Homo sapiens: one gene and its partners. The protein of the gene in region 1 purifies or fractionates together with the protein of each later gene. This does not show direct contact. Each region holds a gene or a part of one and is shown on either strand. Other genes may lie near its edges. The genes, in order: CEP128, CEP162 and LAMP1.

Region 1 (3,652 bases):
CAGACAAAGAGAACCCAATTCCACTGTTTTGATTTGCCTCAAGATAAAGGCTATTCATTTGAGGGCCCTGGGTATGTCCAGGGTATTGAGATGACAGTAAAGACACTGACATTTTCAGACTCAGAGAAAATGCCTAGACAGAATCTTAAGCTGTGGCTACTAGGCAAGCAATTAACCAGAATCAGATCGACAGAGCTTAGTTTTTAGTATCTGTATTGCCAAAGAAATTCCAAACTTGACTCACATGGTCTGTGACTGTCTGCCCTCTGGCTGTCACCCTTGTCAGGAATTGATGTGAAGCTTGGAACACTGCAAAGACAGCAAAAGATGGAGAGTTATAGAGTAGCAGAGCCTGAGCTTTGAGGGATTCTTCTTGAACCATCCTGTCTCTGGACTTACTGTTATGTGTGAAAAAGAAATATCTTTGCTTTTTAATCCAACTTCAGGAAGATATAATATTTCATAATTAAAGACACTTTACATGGTATGACTTCATTATGAAAATATGATTTTAATCCTCAGCACTGCCTATAAGTCTCTCAACTCATGCCAAGGGGGCTAAGTTATCTGCTTCAAACATATATCACTATATTGAAGGTCCCTACCCTCGCTCAGTCCCTCCCATGCTATCTTTACAGCCCAAATTTGATTCTATCAGTTCTTGTGTTCTCCAGTTTGGTAAGTAGAATGACCCTCCCCAAAGAAGTCACACTAATTTCTGGAACCAATGAATATGATAAGACATTACTCCTGTGATCACATTATCTGGATGGGCCTAATCTTATCACATGAGCCCTCAATAGAAGGTTTTTTTTTTTCTGGCTATTGAGAGAAGGGGACGTCAGAGAGAGTTGGAGCTTCGGAAGGATTCATCAAGCTGTTCAAGCTTTGAAGATGGCAGAGTCCATGAGCCAAGGAACAAGGTTGGCTTCTAGAAGTTCAGAATAATCGCTGACCAAAAGCTAGCAAGGAAATGGGGACCCAAAGTCCTACAACTGTATGGAAACAAGTTGTATCAGAAACCTGAATGAGCTTGGACATGGATTCTCCTCAGAACCTCCAGACAAGCGCCCTGGCCAGCTGATACATTGATTTTAGTCTTAGGAGACCTTAAGCTGAATACCTTGCTTGGCCTTTCAACCTATTGGAAGCAGTGAGATAAAAAATGTGTATTTTAAGCTACTAAGTCTGTTGGAAATTGTTATGAAGCAATAGAAAAATAATACATCTACCCTTAGGCTCATCTATATTTCTCCTACCTTACATTCTTTCGGAAGTGAACTCCTTCATCTGTGTTCCAGAGTTCCTTCTCCTCAGTTATCCCGTCTTTTCACAGTAGAGACGGGGTCTTGCTATGTTGCCCAGGCTGGTCTTGAACTCCTGAGCCAAAGCTATCTTCCCGCCTGAGCCTTCCAAATAGCTGGGATTATAGGGTGTGCCACTGGGCCTGGCTCTTTTTACAGTTTTGATCACTACCTTGCATAAACACCTCCCTGAGACCCTAATACCTCCTCGAACTTAAATTCTACTCCAACTTTTTGTTTCCCCTTTCTCACTAATCTTCATCACAGTCTTATGAAATAGCTATTATTATTTTCTCTAGTAAGAGAAATGATTTCCCCGAGGCCATAGAATTGCCCGTGATTGAACTGAAAATCAAATTCACTTCTTTCTGGTCAGAGCTCAACTGCTTATTCATCTCCTTTTGTTAGTTCTCATGTTATCTTTGTGCTCTTTCTTTCTTTCAGTTAAAACTGAGCAGGATTGGGGAAACTTTTTTTTGGAGTGATTGACTCATTAAATTTTTGTCATAAATTGTTTTACACTGAAGTATAAAATGTGAAGTGTAGAAATGTCTTGCAAATATTTGCATTTTAACTCATTATTTGTAATTCTGAAATGAGTCTTAATTGGTTCCTTTTTTTCCCTCCTGTTTCACGGAGATTATCTTTGGTGCCAGTGTTGTATAGAAAACAATCTTGGCTCCCTTGGCTGCCCATTATTTTATTTGCAATGATTAGGTGGTGAGAATTAGAGGCCAGAAGAGTTAACCCTTGGCCTCTGTCCTTCCATGTAAATCTTAGAGAGGCTGGCATAGAATGATGGACTTCTAGGCCCTTGACTTTTCTCTTGAGCCCTTTCCCAACCTTTCCTGACTTAATCTCATTTCTTTGTGGGCTTCCAGGCTCCCAGTTGCATATTGGTGAGTTTTCGTCACCATTGATATTTTAAAAATAATGGCTGAATGTACCGTAAACTTTCTTGTATTGTATCTGCATGCTTCCCTATATTATTTTCCATCTCTGTTTTGGGGTTTCTCCTTTTTAAAAGTGTATCATTGGAATGTACATCAGTATTATTTTAGGTAATAGTGTATTATTTCAACCTGTAGTAAGTTTTCTTTATAATGAGAGTCTTTGCTTTCCCCATTTGTTTGCTCAATTTTATCTTACATTTAAATAATTATTTGTGACCATGGATTGAAATAAGTTTTGGTGATGAAAATTTGAAATACATATTTCAGTGTGTTGCTATTTCAGGACAATTATATATTCCCCCCCACCTTTCTGGCCTAAAAGTATTTTTATTAAAAAATGGGAAAAATACAAAAATTATTTGATGAATTTTTTTTTTCCTTGTGGGTTAAACATTGTTTTGCTGACTGGCAGAGTCTATGGTGAATTTTACAGTAACTTTTATTTTTTTCTTTTGCTTCATGTTCTTAACCTGATAGATTTTAAAAGAAAAGGATGAATTGAAAACCCAGCTGTATGCAGCATTACAACAAATAGAGAATCTTCGAAAGGAATTGAATGATGTCCTAACAAAGCGTGCCCTTCAGGAGGAGGAGCTTCACTCCAAGGAGGAGAAATTACGTGATATTAAGTCTCATCAAGCTGACCTTGAATTGGAAGTTAAGAATTCCCTGGATACCATCCATAGACTGGAGAGCGAATTGAAAAAGCAGAGTAAGATCCAAAGCCAGATGAAAGTTGAGAAAGCTCACTTGGAGGAAGAAATTGCAGAGCTCAAGAAGAGCCAGGCCCAGGACAAAGCTAAACTTCTTGAGATGCAAGAGTCCATCAAGGACCTGAGTGCCATCCGAGCAGATCTTGCTAATAAATTGGCTGAGGAAGAGAGAGCCAAGAAAGCAGTGCTTAAGGACCTTTCTGACCTCACTGCACAGGCAAAATCCAGGGATGAAGAAACAGCTACAATCATCACACAGTTAAAGCTGGAACGAGATGTGCACCAGAGGGAGCTGAAAGATCTCACATCATCATTGCAGAGTGTGAAAACAAAACACGAACAGAATATCCAGGAGCTTATGAAGCACTTTAAGAAAGAAAAGAGTGAGGCTGAGAATCATATCAGGACTCTGAAGGTACCTCTGCTAAATTATCCTGATGATACTGAAGGAATTTTTCTGGTGGCTCATGAAGTTAATAAAGCGTAAACTTTTAGAGATCATTCTGTATTCCCAAGCACTGAAGGGAAGATAAAACCAACAATAAAGAGGCTTATTCATGCCTGTTCGGCCAGGTTGAAATGAGTTATAACAGCCACCTGGGAGCACCTATTTCAGAGCATTGAAGCCCTTTATAAAGAACGTTTAGCTGTTTGGGGAGTTCAGGAAAGGCAGAGGTGGCAG
Region 2 (3,652 bases), on another chromosome or scaffold:
ACTTCCTTAAATATCAAGACTAAATTTCTCTGCCTAGCATCTCAAGTCTCATCACTATTCTAATACTACTCTACTTACCTAATCTGTCACATTTCCTCATGCCTTTTCCTCATTCTTGTTATAAGTACTACCTTCACAAAACATTTCGTGGAACTTCCCAGGAAATTGCCTTCTCCTACCCCCAACTCCTACATAACTTACTAATATGTACCAAGAAAGGATTAATCATACACAGCCTTGTAGTTCCTTGAGAACTGGTGTAAGATTATGCTGCTTTTGCATCCCCACAGCAATGTGCTGTAGGAGGAGAATGAGCATGGGAAACACCCAACAAATGCTTATTGACTGGCAGCCATGGCAGTGAGTGAGTCATGTTGTTACCATATGGCAGTCATATTGCTACCAAATGGAAAGCTTGTTTCTTAAGTCCTGAATATTATGACAGTAGCATGAAGCTCTTTAAGAAGAATCACATTTTTTCCAGGAAAGAATTTAAAATTCAGGTTTTCCAATTAATTTTCCTGTACATCATTTAAAATTTGTTAATATTGTCAATCTGTTTCTTAGATAAGTCTGGGCCTGAGAAGTGAAGAATAAACTTTTCTAGTCCAATATTTAGACTTTTTACTATCATTCAGTTATATGTGCTTTAATTTAGGTTTTTATGCTTTTTCTAGGACCCTACTCACACTGTTTCCATGGAGAAATATTCATATGGTGAAATAAGCAATGGATAAATTTGTCTATAGTTGGGAAGCACCATATTAATATATAGCAACAGCAGTTTACTAAAATACATGCTTTAAGTTAAATGCTGTTATTTTCAAAGTCTTTCCAATAAGAGAGAAAATGTTTATCTGTAGGAAATATACCAAATCTTTATTTATAATTTTAACCATTTACTGAACTGCCTCTGAATAAATTTTATCACAGAGACAAATGAATAGTCTTTCACACTTACAGTCCAATTAATTAATTGCATATTACAAGCATAATATGTCCTGAGAATTACCATAAAGATTGTCTCATTCTCACAATATGCAACTAGCCCTGGAGTCTCATGCATGGGTTGAAAATTGGTTAATGCTGCCTACAAGGCATTGGAGATTCTAAAGGGAACAGCTGTGATTTTCCAAAGAAGCATCTGGGCAAGAAATCTGAGTTTATCTTAAAAGATCAAATGTCAAGTGCTTTGCTTTTGGAACCCTAGATTCCCTCAGAAAGTGTAGCCTCAGGTTGGGGTAAAGTAGAGATATATCACTATTTCCTCAAGTTTGCCCTTATAAAATTCAGTAAATAGTAGCTCATGGATTGGTCATAAGAACTCATAGGCAGTAGTAATGTATAAAGCACCTAACACAGTGCAGTTAATATTGGTGCCCATTTTCCCCTTGCTTAATTCCCAGGTTTCTTCTACTGTTTTTGTGCTAACTCTGAATTAGAGGTTGAAGAGCCACTTTTATGTGTGGTTTTCTTTCATTTGCTCTGTAGGGTCAAGGAAGATACTGCAGCACACATTGCATCCCTCAAAGCATCTCATCAGAGAGAAATAGAGAAACTCCTTTGCCAAAATGCAGTAGAAAATTCTTCTTCCAAAGTAGCTGAACTAAATCGTAAAATAGCAACTCAAGAGGTAGATGACAAATCTGTTTTATCTTTTGACTTGAATAAACTCGTTTTGACTTTAATGAGATTAAAGTTAACATTGTTTTATTTGGAAATGTTTTAACTTTTTCAGCTTGGTGATAGAAATGGGAAACTATTATTGGCTTGATTTCTTTTTTAAAGAAGATAATACTATATATTTAATTTTTTTAAAGAAGATAATACTATATATTTAATTTTTCTACTTTAAAACTACACCATATAAATAAATATTTTTACAGTTTGTCCCTATACTTCTCAAATAAGTCTCTAAATTTGTCACAGGTGGTGAGGTATATGTCTAACATGATTAGGACCCTAGTACTTGAACTTGGATGTTGAACCGAGTCCCCAAGTCCCAGCTGACAGTTATCCTTAGGCATTCTTCCTGCCCCATGACCTTTTATTAACAAATAATGATTCAGGTCAATAGACAATCAGGCACTGGAATAAAATAATGAAAAGAGAGATACACAGCTCTTGCTCTGATGGAGCATAGTCTTCTAAGAATTATTATAGGGAATGCTGCCAACTCATCAGCATTTCCTCAAATAAATGTGTCTTCCTTTTTGAAAAATAGGTATATCTACTTAGAATATCTATGAGCATTACCATGTGGCCTGTCTTCTGTACTGTTTGTCACTTATAAAAATAGCATTAAAATAGGACTTTTATCTACAATCTACTTTCAAATGGTATATCCAAGAAAAAGAAAAAGGTGGCAAATCAGCCACCTTTTGGGTTATCAAGTTGAAAAATATATGAATGTTTATTGTGTTCATCTTGTCTGTAGGCTTCAATTTTAAGAAAGAAGGTCAGGGAGAAAAACATCAAGAAAGAATTATCTCACCAAGTGTAATTATTTAATACCATCTTAATTAAAAATAAATTCCTCAATTCGGGAAGTTTGAATATGGACTGGCTATTAGATACTAAGAAATTACTATAAATTTTCTTAGGTATAAAATGTTATGGTTTTGTGAGAAATGCCCTTATTCTAAAGAGATGTATGTTGAAGCATCTGAAGGTTTTGTTTCTTTGAGACAGTCTCCTTCTGTCACCCAGGCTGTCTCAGCTCACTGCAACCTCTGCCTCCCAGGTTCAAGCGATTCTTCTGTCTCAGCCTTCCAAGTAGCTGGGATTACAGGTGCACGCCACCATGCCTGACTAATTTTTATATTTTTGGTAGAGATGGGGTTTCACCATGTTGGCCAGGTTGGTCTCGAACTTCTGACCTCAAGTGATCCACCCACTTTGACCTCCCAAAGTGGCATTTGAAGTATTTAGGGGCAAAATGTAATGAAGTCTGTAACTTAACTTCAGATCGCTGAGAAAAAAAAGGACTATTTGACTACGTTAATGAAAAATACTTAAAGTGCCTTTCGTAAGTAACAATCCATACAGCCTTACAGAGAACCTCTCTGGCCTTATCCTCCATAGGAATAGGGTGTCAGAGGGCAACTATAAGCATTCTATCAAGTGATTTTGTATTAAGGAATAGTCTGGAAGAGGTAGGAAAAGTAGTATCATGATGCCATAGTGCCATAAATGTTATTTTCCCAGCGTTATAAATGTAATATTGTAAAATTGAGTTAAAGAGAAATCAGCATAGTCTGATCATTAAAAATACAGCATTAGAGATAAGATAAATTTTTCCCAATTTCTCTTAGTTTCTTGATGGAAGTATCTGTTCATATATTTCAGTTTACCTAAAGATATGAGACTGACATTTATTTCACAGATATTATGAGGCTTATGTTATATTTAAGCCATAGTTCTTAAATAAAAACTATCATACTTAACCACAGAGTATAAAGATAATATTGTCTACCTTTTTCCAAATGTGTAGACTTTATAGAGCTTTATTTTAAAAGGACTTTTTCTAGTCATGAAAAATGTTCATATTTATTTTCCCCCCCTTTTATTGATATATAATGATTTAGATATTTATAGGATACATGTGAGTGTTTGCTACATGCAAAGAATGTGTAATAATCAAGTCAGGGTA
Region 3 (3,652 bases), on another chromosome or scaffold:
CGTGTGCCTGGGGCGTGGCCTCCCGGAGGGAGTCAGTGTGGAGATGCCCGTGTGCCTGGGGCGTGGCCTACTAGAGGGAGTCAGTGTGGAGATGCCCGTGTGCCTGGGGCGTGGCCTCCTGGAGGGAACCAGTGCGGAGATGTCGGTGTGCCTGGGGCGTGGCCTCCCGGAGGGAGTCAGTGTGGAGATGTCGGTGTGCCTGGGGCGTGGCCTCCTGGAGGGAGCCAGTGCGGAGATGCCCGTGTGCCTGGGGCGGGGCCTCCTGGAGGGAACCAGCGTGGAGATGCCCATGTGCCTGGGGCGTGGCCTCCTAGAGGGAGTCAGTGTGGAGATGCCCGTGTGCCTGGGGCGTGGCCTCCTGGAGGGAACCAGTGTGGAGATGCCAGTGTGCCTGGGGCGTGGCCTCCTAGAGGGAGTCAGTGTGGAGATGCCCGTGTGCCTGGGGCGTGGCCTCCTGGAGGGAACCAGTGTGGAGATGTCGGTGTGCCTGGGGCGTGGCCTCCTAGAGGGAGTCAGTGTGGAGATGCCCGTGTGCCTGGGGCGTGGCCTCCTGGAGGGAACCAGTGTGGAGATGTCGGTGTGCCTGGGGCGTGGCCTCCTAGAGGGAGTCAGTGTGGAGATGCCCGTGTGCCTGGGGCGTGGCCTCCTGGAGGGAACCAGTGTGGAGATGTCGGTGTGCCTGGGGCGTGGCCTCCTAGAGGGAGTCAGTGTGGAGATGCCCATGTGCCTGGGGCGTGGCCTCCTGGAGGCAGCCAGTGTGGAGATGCCAGTGTGCCTGGGGCGTGGCCTCCTAGAGGGAGTCAGTGTGGAGATGCCCGTGTGCCTGGGGCATGGCCTCCTGGAGGGAACCAGTGTGGAGATGCCAGTGTGCCTGGGGCGTGGCCTCCTGAGGGAGTCAGTGTGGAGATGCCCGTGTGCCTGGGGCGTGGCCTCCTGGAGGGAACCAGTGTGGAGATGTCGGTGTGTCTGGGGTGTGGCCTCCTAGAGGGAACCAGTGTGGAGATGTCGGTGTGCCTGGGGCGTGGCCTCCTGGAGGGAGTCAGTGCGGAGATGCCCGTGTGCCTGGGGCGTGGCCTCCCGGAGGGAGTCAGTGTGGAGATGCCCGTGTGCCTGGGGCGTGGCCTCCTGGAGGGAGCCAGTGCGGAGATGCCAGTGTGCCTGGGGCGGGGCCTCCTGGAGGGAACCAGCGTGGAGATGCCGGTGTGCCTGGGGCGCGGCGTCCTGGAGGCTGGGCTTCCTGCCTGGGTGGCGCTTCACCAGAAAGCCTCATGTATCTTGTCTTTTTTTTTTTTTTTTTTTTTTTTTGAGAGGGAGTCTTGCTCTGTTGCCCAGGCTGGAGTGCGGTGGTGCCATCTCGGCTCACTGCAACCTCTGCCTCCCGGGTTCAAGCGATTCTCCTCCCTCAGCCTCCTGAGTAGCTGGGATTACAGGTGCACATCACCACGTCTGGTTAATTTTTATATTTTTAGTAGAGGGGGGCGTTGCACCATGTTGGCCAGGCTGGTCTTGAGCTCCTGACCTCCCAAAGTGCTGGGATTATAGGTGTGAGCCACCGTGCCCGGCCCATCTTGCCTTTCAATACATCATCTTATCTAAAAAAGCTCGGGGACCTCATAGATTTTATTTTAAAAGGAAATGAAGCACAAGCCACCTTTGAATGGACTTTCCTGTTGGTTTTGTACCTTCCTTCCTGAGTATCTTCAAAGTAGGGCACATGTGGCTGGGCACGGTGGCTCAGTCCTGTAATCCCAGCACTTTGGGAACTCGAGGTGGGTGGATCACCTCAGGTCAGGAATTCGAGACCAGCCTGGCCAACATGGCGAAAACCCGTCTCTACTAAAAATATAAAAATTAGTCGGGCGTGGTGGCAGGTGCCTGTAGTCCCCCCTACTCAGGAGGCTGAGGCAGGAGAATTGCTTGAACCCGAGAGGTGGAGGTTGCAGTGAGCTGAGATCATGCTACTGCACTCCAGCCCAGCTGACAGAGTGAGATTCCATCTCAAAAACAAAAAAACAAAGTAGGGCAGATGACTGTCACTCCAGAGGGTCTGAGTGCAGCTCTGCCTGAGGCTGGAGTCAGCCAGATATCCATCCAAACCGGATTTCCAGCCCAGGCCCATATGGGGTTAGCAGATCTACAGTGAGGCTCAGCCAGGCTTTTGGGTTTATGAGTTCACCGGGAGGAGTGGGGTGTCTTCGTCTTTTATCCTCAGGGTCTGATAGGTGCACGCTTGTTGAATGAATCAGAGGACTGCCTGACTCCTGTTAGGAGTTGAAAATGAAGGTCACCGTGTCTCATCTCCCACCCAATTTGGCATGATTTTTTTTTTTTTTTTTTGAGGCAGAGTCCCGCTCTGTCACCCCAGGCTGGAGTGCAGTGGCGTGATCTCTGCTCACTGCAAGCTCCGCCTCCTGGGTTCACGCCATTCTTCTGCCTCAGCCTCCCAAGTAGGTGGGACTGTAGGCGCCCGCCACCACGCCTGGCTAATTTTTGTATTTTTAGTAGAGACGGGGTTTCACCGTGTTAACCAGGATGGTCTTGATCTCCTGACCTCGTGATCCGCCCGCCTCGGCCTCCCAAAGTGCTGGGATTACAGGCGTGAGCCACCGTGCCCAGCTGCAGCATTTTTTTTTCATTCCTAGGAACAGAGTCTGACTCCTAGCTTAAATGGAAGGAATCGATGGTAAAACATTGGAGGTGGAGGTTGCAGTGAGCTGAGATGGCGCCGCTGCACTCTAGCCTGGGTGGCAGAGCAACTGAGACTCTGTCTCAAAAAAAAAAAAAAAGAACTACCATCAGAAAGGCGGAGAGGATGAGAGTCCCTCAGGACAGGTGAAAGGGGCAGGAGAAGGTCAGAGGCCTGACACACCCAACATTGTCACAAAAAACTGTAAGAGAGGCTGTGGGAGCTATGAGTCGGGAACCTGGGTGCAAACCAATCTCATCCTCACAGACACCCTTGAGGGTCTGAATTGCAGCTTGCAGGTTGATGTGAGTATCTGCTGTTGCCGGGAGAGGAGGAGGGGCCTTCAGAGCACATGAGCTTTGGAAAGGCCCGGCTGTGTGCTGCTCTCCGGAGGGTGCTGGAGGAGGTGTGACAGTGGACCCTCAGGTCTCCCCAGAGGCTCCTGTGCCACCATCTCCCCCCGGGCAGCGCAGGGCACTCTCCAGTGCGTTCCGTGATGAGCTCTCCGTCACTGTCCTCCGCCCTCAGCAGGAAAGACTTTGGTATTTAGTACGCATTCAGGGAAGGAGAGTGTGGGTTTGCGTTTGTAATTCAGGTAGAAGGACGAGGGCATTTTATCCACACTTATTTCTCAAGTTCCAGTTTTTTAAACTGGTGGTTAGACCTGATGATGTTTTATTTGTGTTTCCAGCTTCTTGTGACCACTCTACAGAAACAGGGTGGGAAATGAATGTGCCACATGGATCACAGGTGAAAAACAATTGTCAAAGCAGCGTAGGTTACACTTTTTCTGTGCGTCGTGTGGCCATCTAGACTAGAATTTGGACAAGACTGGCCGGTTTTGCACATTTAACTTTTGCCTGTTTAACCCTGGTCTGTAACATTTTATAAAGGAACCGTGAAGCTGCTTTTTTTTTTTTTTTTTTGAGACAGGGTCTCCCAGGCTGGAGTGCAGTGGCACAATAA

Evidence for each region.
Region 2: the proteins of CEP128 (region 1) and CEP162 purify together in Homo sapiens (affinity purification with western blotting; one large-scale study listed by BioGRID and IntAct). This does not show direct contact.
Region 3: the proteins of CEP128 (region 1) and LAMP1 fractionate together in Homo sapiens (co-fractionation; one large-scale study listed by BioGRID). This does not show direct contact.

The regions. Positions count from the first base shown.
Region 1 is NC_000014.9:80,784,628-80,788,279, reverse strand, and holds part of CEP128 (centrosomal protein of 128 kDa), read left to right. Parts: intron 1-2,734; coding exon 2,735-3,385; exon of another isoform or gene 3,386-3,652.
Region 2 is NC_000006.12:84,147,543-84,151,194, reverse strand, and holds part of CEP162 (centrosomal protein of 162 kDa), read left to right. Parts: intron 1-1,491; coding exon 1,492-1,633; intron 1,634-3,652. UniProt on the Homo sapiens protein: Required to promote assembly of the transition zone in primary cilia. Acts by specifically recognizing and binding the axonemal microtubule.
Region 3 is NC_000013.11:113,314,103-113,317,754, forward strand, and holds part of LAMP1 (lysosome-associated membrane glycoprotein 1 precursor), read left to right. Parts: intron 1-3,652. UniProt on the Homo sapiens protein: Lysosomal membrane glycoprotein which plays an important role in lysosome biogenesis, lysosomal pH regulation, autophagy and cholesterol homeostasis.